2 linked regions of the Homo sapiens genome follow. The protein of the gene in region 2 interacts with the protein of the main gene of each other region in a pairwise test. Each region holds a gene or a part of one and is shown on either strand. Other genes may lie near its edges.

Region 1 (9,011 bases), on a different chromosome or scaffold from region 2:
ATATATTTATGCCTAGAAATATTAAACAAGAAAAATACTTTGTTACCAGTGGTTAATACTGGCTGGTGATGACTGTGTTATGTTACAAATTTAACCACAAGAAAATATTACTTGACATAGAATAAAAGTCTAAAAGAGCCTGAGAGCACTTTAGAGATCTAAAAGTGAAGAAGCTCCTTCTCTGTGTTCCTGTATTACCCTGGGCACTGCACTCATTAGAGTGAATAGCACCTGCTCCTGTTTGCTTTCAGAGTGAGACTATAAGCTCAGTGGGAACACGAACAGTGTTTCAATGATCTGTGCATTTCCAGTAACTGGTATTTCGCACTTGGTTCAATAAATGTTTAAGTGGGGAAAGATAAACTTGACAATTAACCATTTTAAATCCAAACACTACTTTGTTTTTCAAATAAAATTTAAAACTCTAAAATGAAATATCTCACATTTGAGCTAAAAAGATGTCCCTACATAAATGAGTTTACTGTTATCCCAAATACAAAAAGAATGCTATTTTCAAATAGAATAAGATGAAACACATACAAAACCAAATATTCGACCACTAAATTCAGTCAAAGACAGATTAAAATCATTAACTATCCTTTCTTATCTTTACCTTATCTTATCTATACTCACTCTTGAGAGATTCTGATGAGGAGAATCACAAAGGCTTTCACGGGCACTTTCATTCCTATAATTATGTTTTCTTGGGCTCTTAGGTCGTGTCCGACTTGGCATATCACTATCTGAGGGTCCAGATGCATCCATCTTCAGGAAAAGTAAAACAAGAGAAAAAAACAAACCACACATATATACATATATAGCACTGAAAACTAGGAATAAGCCATGCCAGATATTGACAAATTTCATTGTAGATTATCAAAATATCACATCCCTTAATATCACCATTGATTTCACCAAAAAAGTTCTTAAGAACAGGGAAAGTTTTCAATAACTCTAACTCACAAGCTTGAATTTTATATTGGTAACAGTTGTTTTCCTTGAAGTAACAGGTTCGTTACCTTCATTTTCAAGAAAATGTCTGCCAAAATCCCCAAGTCTGATTCACCATAGTTTGCCTGTCAGTCACTCCCAAGTAAAACTGGTGTTTCATGAAAAAAGCAGCTAGTTTCATTTCTCAACTCAAACAAACATCACATTTTGGTAAGCATAAGTGTTATACGTACTTCTTATTTTATCACACAGAATATTAAGACGAACTACACAAAAGATGAAGACAATAGTAATAATTTTTACTGCTTGATGAAGTAGTAAAATAGTAGTAACTTTTACTGCATCATCAAGCAGTAAAAATTATTTCTAATTATGCTAGTTTTTTAAGTGAAATTATTGTGCCTGGTGGGGAAGAATATAATGACTACAAGTATACTCTGGTGTCACTGCCTTGATCTGTGCTGAAGTGCCAACAGTTTACCCACCAAATGCTTTTGTACCTCCAGCTACACTTGCATTAGTGCAAATGCCAAAATGGTGAAAAAGGCATAAATAATGCCTTAGTATTATTACAAAATAGTTTTGAATTCACAGACCCTTCTCAGAGATTCTCAGTGACTCCAGGGGTCTTCAGACTACACTTTGAACACTGCTGTAATAACATATATTAAAAAAATACTTATTGTAGTATTATCTATCCAAAATGTTACTTGAAAGCTTTAAACAAAAAATATATGCCCATCAACAAAGAAATAACAAACAACTGCACTTCCCCACCACAGAACATTATGATGCCTTAAGAAAGAACAGATTAGAGCTGTTAACAGTTTACCTGCAGGGATTTCCAACATATGTTTTGTGCGGTGAGAAAGGCATATGCATAATGCAATCCCATAGTCAAAGTATAAGTATAGATACGTTATGTATGTACAGATTTTTACACAATAAAAATCATAAGGAAATATACATACTAGGTTTCTAACATCGCTTCAGAGGGCTAAGTTATGCAAGCAGAACATAAAAAAAAAAAAGGAAGGCGCCTAGAAAAAAAAGAGTAAAAGAAAAAAGCACATACAATTGTATTTATTTGTCAAGTAAAATCATTGATGTAGGGATACATATGAGGAGAAGTTAAATTTTAAAGGAAAAAAGACAAAGATTGCCTTCTATACTCACATGTGCATCTGAAGATCCAGATGAATGAACATCTGATGATCTCGTCTACAAGTATCAAAAATAAAAGTCAATAATTTAAAATGTCTTATACTAACAAAACATGTCTCTCGTGTTATACAAACTTAAGAGTTTCCTAACTTCTGGCAATTTCTCCTCAGCTAATAAAACTGAGCAAAGGCAGTCTCTGACTTATGAAAAGATTGTGATACAAAGTAAATGTGTAAGTCATTTCTTTAAAATTCAGCCTGCATATTTCCAAAAATATAATAAACACTAGTGGGATATATATGAGGCAAAATTACCTCTTTATAGTATACACTGGAAACCTAACCACCATTTTTACACAGTTTTATGCAAAAGCTCTTCCTAATCATAGATGCATCGTTTACTGCCACAGCACTGCCCAGCAACTTCTTGGTCCACAGCACGAGAACTCTCTTTCTCTAATCACCCAAAGCCACATAAAGAAATCCACATATAAATCCTTGCTGTCTATTAAAAGGTACAAATTCTGCAAAGTTCCAGAAAATATTATCAAATCCCCAATAAGGCACCATTTACAACTCGTTTTAAGGGAGATGATTCGATAGCATGTCACAGGCTGCCTGGTGGCATGAGAAAGAGTTCATATAATATCTTCCAGTGATGTCAACTGTTAAAACTTCAACTTTTCTTAAGTGATCTACCTATCAGATTATACATGGTATGCAATAACTTGTTGCCACTACACATGTAAAGACAAAGATGACAAGCTGTAGGACGATTAACTAAATAATGTATGCTATCTTTCTGAAAGAAAGATTCTCCAAGAATTTTTACTTGGGGATCCAAAATATAACTGTCACTGAGCTGTTTTTATTTTTGAGGGTATACGGTAGTGAAATTTTACTTGTTTTTATTTATATATTTAAGTGTCAAATGTTCAAATGAAATCAAGAATATTGAGATCACAAATATCTCACCTGACCCCAACTCCCAGACAAGATGTCATATAAAGTACAAGATAAAATATTAGTTTAAGAGAAAAACTGAAGATTCATGTTATTTAAAAAAGAGCAAAGATCCATACAGTATTGTTTTATTTACATTGTCCAGACATAAGGCTAAGAACAGCTGGTAAGATTTTTACACTGAATCAATTTACTCCTCTGAACTCCACTGTATTGCGCATTAGCATAGGCAAAAATCAGCCCAGGACAACAGGACAACCAAGCACTGGGACCCCTCCCATCTCATTCTTTCTTTCATTTTTTTTTTTTCTTGAGACAGAGTCTTACTCTGTCTCCCAGGCTGGAGTACAGTGGCGCGACCTCGGCTCACTGCAGCCTCCGCCTCCCGGGTTCCAGTAATTCTCCTCCCTCAGCCTCCTGGGTAGCTAGGAGTACAGGCACGCACCACCATGCCTGGCTAATTTTTGTATTTTTAGTAGAGACGGAGTTTTACCACGTTGGCCAGGCTGGTCTCGAACTCCTGACCTCAGGTGATCTGTCCACCTCAGCCTCTGAAAGTGCTAGGATTACAGACATGAGCGACCGCACCCGGCCCCATCTCACTCTTTCTGTCCATGGTTTTTCTGTCCCCAACTTTTGTGTCCACCCTGATTTTCTTCTAGCGGCTAATCTTTCTTAAATGTCAAGGTGGTATAAAAGAAAATTTTTAGTATTTATTAACTATGAAACACACCCTGAAACATATCTTGAAATGCATAAATTTACAAATATCTAGAAATTTAAAAATCCAAAAGAATAAATAACTACTCTTACAAAAGAAAAACAAGTTCAGGCAAGAGGCTGAAGGGACTGAAAAAAATCAACTGCCTGGGCCAGGTGCAGTGGCTCACGCCTGTAATCCGAGCACTTTGGGAGGCCGAGGCGGGTGGATCAAGAGATGGAGACCATCCTGGCCAAACCTGGTGAAACCCCATCTCTACTAAAAATACAAAAATTAGCCAGGCGCCTGTAGTCCCAGCTACTCGCTGAGGCAGGAGAATGGTGTGAACCCGGGAGGCAGAGCTTGCAGTGAGCTGAGATCGCGCCACTGCACTACCGCCTAGGCGACAGAGACTCCATATCAAAAACAAACAATAGTAACAAAAAAAACTCAATTGCCTTCCAATACACCAGTATTAACTTGCTAAGCAACAAAAACATCCTAATCATAAAAGCAACAAAAAATATAAAAACATCTAGAAACCAATTTAAGAAATGTATATAACCCTTGTGAAGAAAACAAAAACTTCGAGAAAAATCCAGTTACTCAAGCCACCTTTTCAAAAGATTCATATTACTGGATGGGAAAATTCAATATTAAGATAATGTCAATGACACCTAAATTTCTTTACATATTTAATACAATTTCATTCAACCGCTCTAAATTCCAAAGGGAAATATTTGCAAGGGGGCAAAAGAATTGCCAAAACAATTCTAAAGTTCACCCAGAAAGAATAAGCATCCAAAAGAATAACTAAGAAAGCGCTACCCTTTCTGTAGTCTTTGATGCCACCACATCCAAATCATCATTTCTAGGATTTAAAAACAAAAGATACAAGAACCTAGGCATTCTGCCTATTTCCATATAGTTAACTCTTCCCTGACTCCAAGTCATCAAAAGATGAAGCTCTATAATCTTCAAGGATCTCACTTGCGTAACCATTCACCAAATTAAATAATCTCTAATACAAAAATAATCAGTTCAAAAGTAACAATTTTGTCAGCTTTCAAAATTACACAATTTGATAAATTTGCAAACAGAGCAGTAACAGCATAGTGTAGCACAATGCACCGGTGTAGGACAATGCACCAGCTGATTTCAGTTAGCTTAAGATGTCACTAATCACATTTACTGCAAACCAGACATTTTCCACTGATACATACCTACAGCTACATAGCATTCAGCACGGAACTTTAACAGTTCAAACAGCAGTTAACACAATTTTTAAAATAATCATCAACTTCTAAAGATAACAGTCAAGGTAAACAGTAAATATAGCACTACTTCAGAAGCTGAGCTTCTCCCTCTTCCTAACCTGGAACTGAACTGTATTCTTTGTCTTGAGTTTGGCTTTTTATTTTTAACTGAAGAACACAAACCAATGATGCCTAAAGATCTCCTGAAGTCGGCCGGGCGCGGTGGCTCACGCCTGTAATCTCAGCACTTTGGGAGGCCAAGGCGGGCGGATCACAAAGTCAGAGGAGATCAAGACCATCCTGGCTAACACAGCAAAATCCCGTCTCTACTAAAAATACAAAAAATTGGCCAGGTGCGGTGGCGGGCACCTGTAGTCCCAGCTACTCGGGAGGCTGAGGCAGGAGAATGACGTGAACCCGGGAGGCGGAGCTTGCAGTGAGCTGAGATAGCACTACTGCAGGCCTGGGCGACAGAGCGAGACTCTGTCTCAAAAAAAAAAAAAAAAAAATCTCTTGAAAGGACCCAAAAGCTGCTGGAGGGAGTGGCTCATGCCTATAATCTCAGCTACTAGGGAGGCTGAGGTGGGACGACTGCTCGAGGCCAGGAGTTCAAGACCAGCCTGGGCAACATAGCAAGAACCCCTGTCTCTGGAAAAAAAAAAAAAGAAAAGAAAAGAAAAATACAAAAGGAAGAAGTGAAAAGGCAGACTAAGGGAAGTTTGACACAATAAAGTAGCATACACAAGAGAAATTTATTTTAAGGCAGAGAAAGCAGACAGTAGAAATGTGGGGAGGGACAGCAAGAAAATCCAAAAGGAAAAAAGATCATTCTGATGGCTGCTAAAGGGATAAAAGTGAAGCCAACTACACTACCTGTTGCCCTATAGCTTGCTGGCTGAGAACAAAACTAGTTTTCTTCTGGCTGCTCCAATTTTACTTTAAGTGAAAACCCCACATCTGAGTTTCCAAATTACCAAGCTATCCACAGCAACATTCCTCCAACACTACCATTCTGCCTAGTGAGCTCTCCATTCGTGTATCTGTCTCCTAATCTCCCACGTTTCTCCTCTCACCCTCTAAGAGAAGCAACTTTCATCTCCACAAGTTTAACAATCTCTCCTATAGGAAGCATAACACCACCTTAATTGCATTGTGCTGACTCTCTTCTACTAGACAGCATGCTCCTCAAAGATGGGTACATTCTTTTTTTTGAGACGGAGTTTCGCTCTTTTTGCCCAGGCTGGAGTGCAATGGCATGATCTCGGCTCTCGGCAACCTCCGCCTCCCAGGTTCAAGCGATTCTCCTGCCTCAGCCTCCCGAGTAGCATGTGCCACCATGCCCAGCTAATTTTGTATTTTCAGCAGAGATGGGGTTTCTCCATATTGGTCAGGCTGGTCTTGAACTCCCGACCTCAGGTGATCCACCCGCCTTGGCCTCCCAAAGTGCTGGGATTACAGGCGGGAGGCACTGTGCCCGGCCGCTAAAAATGGGTACATTCTTATTTAACATTTTCTAACTCAACATCAAGCACAAGATCTGGCAAGCGACAGAGTCTCAATATACTTGACTTGTCAGAACAAGTGCCTACCACCAAACAAAATTACACTCCACACTATCAACATACTATGCTGTCCACTCATTAACAACAGCTACCTAGCTTAATACCACTATCCAAGCCAAATCAAGGTATCCATCTTTAAAAAACATTCACAAAATCATTAATACAAGCACTATATAAATAAAGTTAAATAACAAACCTAAGATGATTTTTTAAATTATTCAAAACACTACCAATACTATATGAAAAGTTGTAAGTACACTCTGAATAACCTATAGTTTATCTAAACTGAGGAAGGGCCTTGTGAAAAAACTTAACTCAAGGAATATATGTCTAACACTACCGTTAGCCTCAAGTGCTACTGACAAATGTATCTTGCTTTCAAAAACGTTATTTCAGCAAAATATCCAGCTCACAGCTGATGTGCAATAAAATGTTAAAACCACCTATACTAGAATGAGGCAAATAGTTTGTAATATTACTATTTTTGATTTTAATATCTTGTAGCAAGTTTTTCTTTTTATTCCAAAAATGATGGCTCCTTGAAAAAAAGGGTGGAGGGTAGAGGGGTAGATACTTCAACCGGCATACTAAATGAGCTCTTCTCTCAATGATACCCAGTAAGGCAAATGGGTATCTTTCTTAGGTTTACTTTCCAAGGAAAACAAAGCTTCAGAAATAAAAAACAAAAAGTGAAAATAAAAACTGGACTTTCAGAAAACAATTCAATCCAGAAAGATAGGAATTATTTTTAAAACCATACCAACAGGCATATTCTAGCACCCGTGCTGCAGGTTCAAGTTTCGAAAAAGTTATCAATCGAGAAAATGGAAGGAAGTTCAGTTCTACCTTCCAGACCAAAACAAAACCTTCTACCAAAAAAACTACCTTACATTTTAAGATAAGGTTACAACCATAAACCATAATAAAGATTCAGTTTAAAATTGGCAAACTGTTTGAAAGCCTGATTTTCAAGGTTTGTATTTTGTTTGGACTTTTTCATAAACTTTCAGGTACCACAAAAAATGAAAACTGGCAGTAATAAATACCTAAGGTTCACAAGCCTTGAACAGGTCCTCAGTTTACTTATTTCTTAAAAGTGATACTTTTTGTTAATCAGCAAAGGCAGTCAATCAAAACAGTTCCCAAAGCAATTCAGCACTGGATGTCCAAGGAAGCCTGTAGTATTTTGTTTTATCCATTCACCTAACTCAATTTTTGGCGATACGGCAAAAAAGAAAAAAAAAAAAAAAGCCATAGTCACAGAGTGAAATAGCAGGGCACACAATTACATTACATTAGCAATATTACCAGCACAGGAGATGGCAGAAGGAAAGAAAATACTACATTTTCTTCATATCCTAATTTTGCTGAGTAAGCAAACAATTGACAGTCAAAAACAGTAATTTTTTTATAAATTAAATTCTAAGGAAATATGCTTAACAATTTTATAAGTAAACAATTACAGGCTCTCTCTCTCTCCTCTCAAAATGAAAGCTACTACATAACATCAACACCCCTCCCCAACCAAGCAATATTTTAGACTAGTGATAAACAAACAAATGCACAGGAAAATTTTAGCTCATTTCTAGAACATTTGTTAAATGTCTACATCTGCCAGGCTCTAAAATGCAAAGCACAACAAAATTACACAGAAAATTAAAGTGCACAGGGGTCTCTTCATTAGGGACAATTATGAATAAAGGTAAGTCATTCAAGTACATACACATACATAAAGTATCATTTTAAAACTAGAAGCCAGGCACGGTGGCTCACGCCTATAATCCCCGCACTTTGGGAGGCCGAGGCGGGGGGGGGGGGTCACAAGGTCAAGAGGCCAACAGATGAAACCCCATCTCTACTAAAAATACAAAAATTGGCCAGGCGCCTGTAGTCCCAGCTACTCGGGAGGCTGAGGCAGAAGAATTGCTTGAACCCAGGAGGCAGAGGTTGCAGTGAGCTGAGATTGCACCACTGCACTCCAGCCTGGGCGACAAGGCAAGACTCCCTCTCAAAAAAAAAAAAAAAAAAAAAAAAAAAACACCCCAACTAGAAGACCTGTAGAGGTTATCTAATTTAATCTTTTTATAATTAAGAAATGTTAATAATTTTGCCATATTGTACATTTAAAATTAACATTTTCCCAATGTCTAGAAATATAATAAGCATCCCTATCCATATTAACGGGAATGTAACTACCAAAGAAAACGACGAATCATGAAACAGAAGTATCTGTTCACTCCATCTGTATTGTAAAATATAAGCCACTCATCTGTTCTTTCCAGAGGAAAGGAAATCAAACCAGATATCAAAGGCTAGAAATTCTAAATACTGTAGTATTAGCCAAAATGATCTTACAATTTCTCTAATAAATTATGTGTTAGAAATAAAAAGCAGGGAAGCAGGGCGGGGCACGGTG
Region 2 (7,000 bases):
ATTGATTCATTCAACAAATGTATAAGCAGCAAGGTATATTCTTGGATTTTATCATACAGAGATGAAAATATGCTTGCTATTCTCAAGGACCATTTAAGCCGGGAAAAGAGACAAAACTTCAATATAGAGCTAACTGTAATCTAATATGGTAATGTTACAGTATGAGTCAAATGGTGTGTGAAAAGGGACTGATTACATCTCGAGATGTTAGGGAGAGCTTCAAAAGAAAAGGTGACACTCAAGCTCATTCATGAAAGATGAATAGACGTACAATGGGAAGTCAAGCGAGGGAGCTTGGAATTCCATAAAGGCAACAGGAGGTGCAAGAAACTGGAGAAGTGAAAATAACCACAAGCGTCTAGTATACATCAGGGACTGGGAAGTAATGGTGCTTAAAAAGGTAGTTTGGAGCTATATTGTAGAGGCCTCATAAGTCATGCCAACGAGCCTCAGTTTCACCTGTCGGACAATAATACTTTCAGCTTGTACAAACTCTGGCAATCAGTCAGAAGAGATTACTGTCATTAAGCATTTCCTTAACCAGCTGGAGCAAAGGAACCCATTGCCGATTCAATGTGTCCAAACTGAAAACTCTTAGTGAGTGAAATAAAGTTGCCTGCACTGTGCAGAATTGAATTCTGTCCCTCCCAGTGCTTACTTCATTTCCCTTGGCATAAAAAACATAGTCATAGTGTCCTTGAACTGCTTGTGATACATTTTGGTGTTCAAGCATACTAGAGTTAATGTTTCATTATATGTGCTAAGCATTTTCTTTTCAAAGCCCGAATGTTGTTCTGGAGCATATCAGTTACGCCTTCTTATTGTTTACTACTTATATTATTTCTTTTTTTTTTAGACAGAGTCTCGCTGTGTCTCCCAGGCTGGAGTGCAGTGGTGAGATCTCAGCTCACTGCAACCTGTGTCCCCCAGGTTCAAACGATTCTCCTACCTCAGCCTCGCGAGTAGCTGAGATTACAGGTGCATGCCACCATGCTCGCTAATTTTTGTATTTTTAGTAGAGGCAGGGTTTCACCATGTTGGCCAGGCCGGTAATGAACACCTGACCTCAAGTGACCCACCCACCTTGGCCTCCCAAAGTGTTGGGATTACAGGCATGAGCCACCGTACCTGGCCTATTCTTTCATTTTTAATGCCCATATAAGAATGCTATTTGATTCTCTATTATAAAGTTACTTGTTGATGACAAATATTTAGAGTTGTAAATTAGGTTTAGCATTTGTTGCTATCCTCAAGCCAGATAAAGAGTGAAAATAGGCAGTAATACACTTTGGGATATCAGGATTTGGCCTCTGAAACCAGACTTTTGGAGTTCTAATTCTAAACTGCCACTTCCTAGCCATGTGAACTTGGGGCAATTACTTCATCTCTTTCTGCCTCAGCTTTCTGTCTATAAAGTGGACCTAATAGTAATTGCCTACCTTATAGTTGAGTTGTTTTCTGAGTGCATGTGCTTAGTAGCTAGGCACCCTCAATAAATGTTTTATTAATGCTCAGTCAGCAACGGGTGATGTTATTGTTAATATTGTCATTATCGTAAGTGTTGCGTGAGGGTTTTCTTTTGCAAGGCATCAAGAGCTATAGGATTCAGCTTGTCAAAATATGCTTCTGTCAATTATATTGTGTGGTCTTAGGGTGGCATGCAGTACATACAGCTGCCTGTTTACCAGAATTATATAGTGAATCAGCTGGGATCTATCAACTTCATTCCAGAGTTCAAGGCCTTGGTTATTTATCTCCTTCATTGTAGGAGTTCCCAAAAGTCGACGAGGAGAAATTTGGCAGTTTCTGGCTTTACAGTACCGACTCAGACACAGATTGCCTAATAAACAACAGCCTCCTGACATATCCTATAAGGAACTTTTGAAGCAGCTCACTGCTCAGCAGCATGCGATTCTCGTGGATTTAGGTATGTTTGTCATGTGGATTATAATTTACAAAAGTAAACAGCTGATCCCTCTGTTAAGTTTTTTTGGTTTTTGTTTGTTCTTGGTGCTGATAAAGAGCACCTGTTGGCATATGCAGAGCCGTTGACTTTGTCCTTTACTGAGGGCAAGTTGGCCTTATACCTGATTGACGATCCCATAAATGCCTGCGTGTTAAATGAAGTTTTCACCCCAAAACTTTGCCTCTGCAAAGGGAGCCATCTTATATTTAAATTATTATAAAGGTCATATTATGGGGTGCTCTCAGTTACTGCATTTTGAACAACTGACTTTTTAGGGCAGATAGTTGTATCTTAATCAATGCTGGTTTTGAAATAGCTTAGAATAGGTTAAAAATTTAACAAAGGTGTACTAGGTATTCCTGGACACACTGCTGAAAACAATCCTTTATATGTCACTTTAAAAAGCAGCATGATAAATGGTTATGTTGGTGGAAATTATGACTATACACCTATAGGGTGAGTGAAACATTAGTTGCACTAATAGTGTAGGAATGGGTACTCATGACCTGGCGGAGAATTTCCAGTGACAGAATCATAAAGCAGTCTTTTTTTTTTTTTTGAGATGGAGTCTCCCTCTGTTGCCCAGGCTGGAGTGCAGTGGCACGATCTCTGCTCACTGCAAGCTCCGCCTCCCAGGTTCATGCCATTCTCCTGCCTCAGCCTCCTGAGTAGCTGGGACTACAGGCACCAGCCACCACGCCCGGCTAATTTTTTTTTTGTATTTTTAGTAGAGATGGGGTTTCACCGTGTTAGCCAGGATGGTCTCAATCTCCTGACCTCGTGATCCACCCGCCTCGGCCTCCCAGAGTGCTGGGATTACAGGCATGAGCCACCGTGCCCAGCCAGCAGTCTTCTTAAATGCTGATTTTCAAATAACTTATGGAAATAAAAATGCTTTGATTTTTAAAGATTGTATTGTCTCTAATTTTTCTCTAACATACTTTATTATTTAAAAATATCTACATTATTAGATTAAATATTATATATTGGCATTTGACCACTTTATTTGTACTCCTAAAAGTTGATATATGTCAGGTGGCCAGATATGTTATTTGGGCCCATTTGGGAAAATACAAGATTACCTTATGTTTGGGGTCATCTTATATTAGGGCATATGAAAAATCACTAGCCAAACCCTAGTTTTTACCTCTGTTCCTTTTGGATGACAAATGGCTCTTACTGGGAAAGGACCCAGCTCAGTTAATTATTTTTTTGAGCCCAGCGGAATTAAAAAGGGGATTTTACAGAGAAACTGAAAATGAGTTTTTGTGCTGATTGTGCCACTAATTGTGGTCTTAGACATATTACCTTCCTTCTGAGCGTCCATCCTCTCTACTAAGTGGGGACATTGAACAAGGCAATCCCTATGTTCCCAAGCAAATCTGTGGTTCTCTGACCATAAATTGATGATACAATCAGGGTTAGTCACGATGTCCTATTAAAGAGAGAAAATGAGATCATATTACAGTCAGACAAAAATGGAGCTAGAATCAAGTTAATGGATAGAAAGTGTATTTATAGTTTTCCTTAGTAAAAATTTTAAGTGAGAAAGTAAAACCATAATTTTAAAAATTGCTTATTTGGCTCTGCTTGTAGCCATCTGTGTTTCTTCAGCATGCAATTGTTATTTTCTCATATCTTCCTCTTACTGGCTCTGCAGAATTAATCTTATTGGTTCCTAGAAAAAAAAATCACTTTTAAGCATATGTGGGAGAAAACATTTTAAAACCTGGCACTCTTGCAAGTTCTAAATGACATGAGTAATCATTTCACAAGGAAGCTAACATCCCCCTTCATTTTTGTGGCCCTAGAAAAATGCCCATACCAATATAGACAGCTTTGATGTGAAGACGGATTTGTTTCTGTGTATAGAACTCTCCTTTTAGTGATGCAGGACTCACATTGCCAGCTCAAGTGTCTCTGTGGTAATTTTATACCTAGAGGTATATTTTAGAGGGGAATTTATTTGAAATTGACTTGACCCTTTATTTTCCTTGATATTTTTAGATATTGAAAAAGAAAAGTGGTTTACATGGCTCATGGAGGTATTTTAAGAGCAGAGAGCGAACGATAGTTGAAAAAGCAGTTTTCTTCTGAATGACAGTCTGAATGTAAAGTCAAACAAACCCAAAAAGTCCCTCCAGTGTCATAAGAAAAGCAGAAATAAACCTGTTTATAGACTATGAAGATTTTCTTTTAAATAATATAATATGTCTTACAGACTTCTGGTTTCATTTAGAAGGTAGTCTTTATATGAATTAGAATTTGCCTTGCTTTATAGTCAGAATAAAATTTATATTCCATTTTCCTGGTATTTCTCCTGGGTACATCATTGGTTTGTGGATTTTTATTGTATTTTTTTTTTTTTTTTTTTTTTTTTGCTGGAAAGAAGTACTGGTTAGCATAAAATGTTTCCTCCCATATCGTATATGTGAAGATGGTATGGTGGCCTGGCAGAACTTGGGGTGAGAGAGGGAGAGACTCTTAGTTACATGGTGACTCTAAGCAACTCTCACTGGTTTGGGAAAGAGTGTCTGTTTATTCTTGGAGGTCACTGAATTGCAATTTCACTGTTGTCTCCAAGGCATGAGGACATTTCAAAAAATATTTTCCTTCTTTTCCTCTGCAGGAAGGACGTTTCCTACTCACCCTTACTTTTCAGTACAGCTTGGGCCAGGACAGCTGTCACTGTTTAACCTCCTGAAAGCCTATTCTTTGCTGGACAAAGAAGTGGGATACTGTCAGGGGATCAGCTTTGTGGCTGGAGTCCTGCTTCTGCACATGAGTGAAGAGCAAGCCTTTGAAATGCTGAAATTCCTCATGTATGACCTCGGCTTCCGCAAGCAGTACAGACCTGACATGATGTCGCTGCAGGTGAGGCACTTGTGCTTCCCGAGGAAGGTGTGAGACTATTACCAGAAATCCTGGCCCTCTTCTCAATTATTACAGTTCAGATTTAAAGAAATGTAGAGCCATTGTCTTAGAACTTGGGTAAAGATTGGGGCATGTTTTAGTTCACTTAGTGTGGGATTTGCTATTTAGGTAAACTTCTAAGTGTATGAGACCCAGAGGCAGAATACCTTTTCCATAAAATTCCTGAAGTAAGTAAATAAGTAATTTAAGAAAGGTAGGTGATGAGGACCCAGTCCTTTATGCCCTAAGTCTATGGGTTACATGGAGAAGGTATCAAATCATCTTTATTCACTTTTTCTCAACTTCTCAGTTGAAAAGGCTCACAGATCTTTTGTTTACAATCTGAAAGTATCTTTATCCCTTTACTTTTGAGTACACAAATAGCAGATACCATGTTATGGTTCTTTTTGAACTTATCATTGATATCTCCCCTCCTTTATCTTCATGTAAGATAGGCCTTTACAGAGGAAAAAGTGTGAAAGCCAGTGGTGCCTTTTCAGTCTGCTTTGTGTGTGTGTGTGTGTATGTGTGTGTGTGTGTGATGGAATCTTGCTTTGTTGCCCAGGCTGGAGTGCAGTGGCACGATCTCGGCTCACTGCAATCTCTGCCTCCCGGGTTCAAGCCATTCTGCTGCCTCAGCCTCCCCAGTAGCTGGGATTACAGGCAGGTGCCACCATGCCTGGCTAATTTTTTTGTATTTCTAGTAGAGATGGGGTTTCACCATGTTGGCCAGGCTGGTGTTGAACTCCTGACCTCAGGTGATCCGCCCGCCTCAGCCTCCCAGAATGCTGGGATTACAGGCTTGAGCCACTGAGTCTGCTTTTCTTAGCAGGCTCTGAAGAAGCACCATTAAGATTTTCCAGGTATTTTGAGTGGGGTATTAACTGCCACTGCTGTCTTTAGCCTACCTCAGACTCCCTGTTTGCACATTTCTCTCCTAGTTTTCACTTCTCTAAGTGGGTTGGTTGCTAATAAGCAGTTTAAATTTTGTCTATAGATACTTAAACAACCACTGCCTGGCAATTTAAAGCTTTCAGTGGTTAAAAATATAAAAGAAGACTTTAAAGAGGATTCTCAGGTTTTTCCTCCCTTGAAATGAGGTATGCATGACTCCCAGTTCATCATAATACTGTGCTTTAGATAAGAAGTAATAGTTTAAAGATGCTTTTAAAATATACTATTTTTTTCTGTTTCCCAGAGATGAGTTTTTTGCCTTTAATATCTCAGTTGCCAATGTATAACAAAAGAATTGTATTTTTAGTCTGAGCGTTATAGTAAATGATATTTTTTGAGAGTATGAATGGAGATGAAGTATTCCATTTTTCTTTACTTTCTGAAGGTAAAATTTTGACTGGGGAGATAGGGCTTTGCTATCAACATTAGGTTTTCTGGTGTGAGTTCATATGATTTGATTCCTCATTGATGACTATTCGTAGGTTTAACAAGTCAAATAACAACTGTGGAAAGTTTTATTTTTTATTCCTAAAGAGTTTACCTGTATCTTTTTATCTTTTTATCGTTTTTTTTTTTTTTGGAGACGGAGTCTTGCTCTGTCACCCAGGCAGGAGTGCAGTGGCGCGATCTTGGCTCACTGCAACCTCCACCTCCTGGGTTCAAGTGATTCTCCTGCCTCAGCCTCCCGAGTAGCTGGGATTACAGGCATGCACTACCATACCCTGCTAAATTTTTTGTATTTTTAGTAGAGTTGGGGTTTCACTGTGTTGGGCAGGCTGGTCTCAAACTTCCGGACCTCAGGTGATCCACCTGCCTTGACCTCCCAAAGTGCTGGGATTACAGGCGTGACCCACTGTGCCTGGTCACCTGTATCTTAATATCAGATAGGAATCAGATGGTCTTGTAAGGAATTCAATAATTCTGATTTTCAGAAACAACGGTTTGGTAGCTATTATTAGAATTTCAAAGATACAGGGAAGTACCTGTGAGTAGTGTTTGATCTGGGTCCACAGATAAAAGGATAATAGCTATCAGTTTAAAAATACAATGATATTTCAACTTAAAAATTATTCATCAATTTGACATTACAAAAATTCATGTAAATCGGATTTATACATTCATTTAATATGGACTGTAAGTACCAAGAAGTATTTTATGTCTATAATT

The links.
Region 1: the proteins of TBC1D4 (region 2) and U2SURP interact in a two-hybrid assay, tested with the Homo sapiens proteins (one study listed by BioGRID and IntAct).

The regions. Positions count from the first base shown.
Region 1 is NC_000003.12:143,003,976-143,012,986, reverse strand, and holds part of U2SURP (U2 snRNP-associated SURP motif-containing protein), read right to left. Parts: intron 2,173-9,011; coding exon 2,128-2,172; intron 766-2,127; coding exon 634-765; intron 1-633.
Region 2 is NC_000013.11:75,297,170-75,304,169, reverse strand, and holds part of TBC1D4 (TBC1 domain family member 4), read left to right. Parts: intron 1-1,768; coding exon 1,769-1,927; intron 1,928-4,595; coding exon 4,596-4,840; intron 4,841-7,000.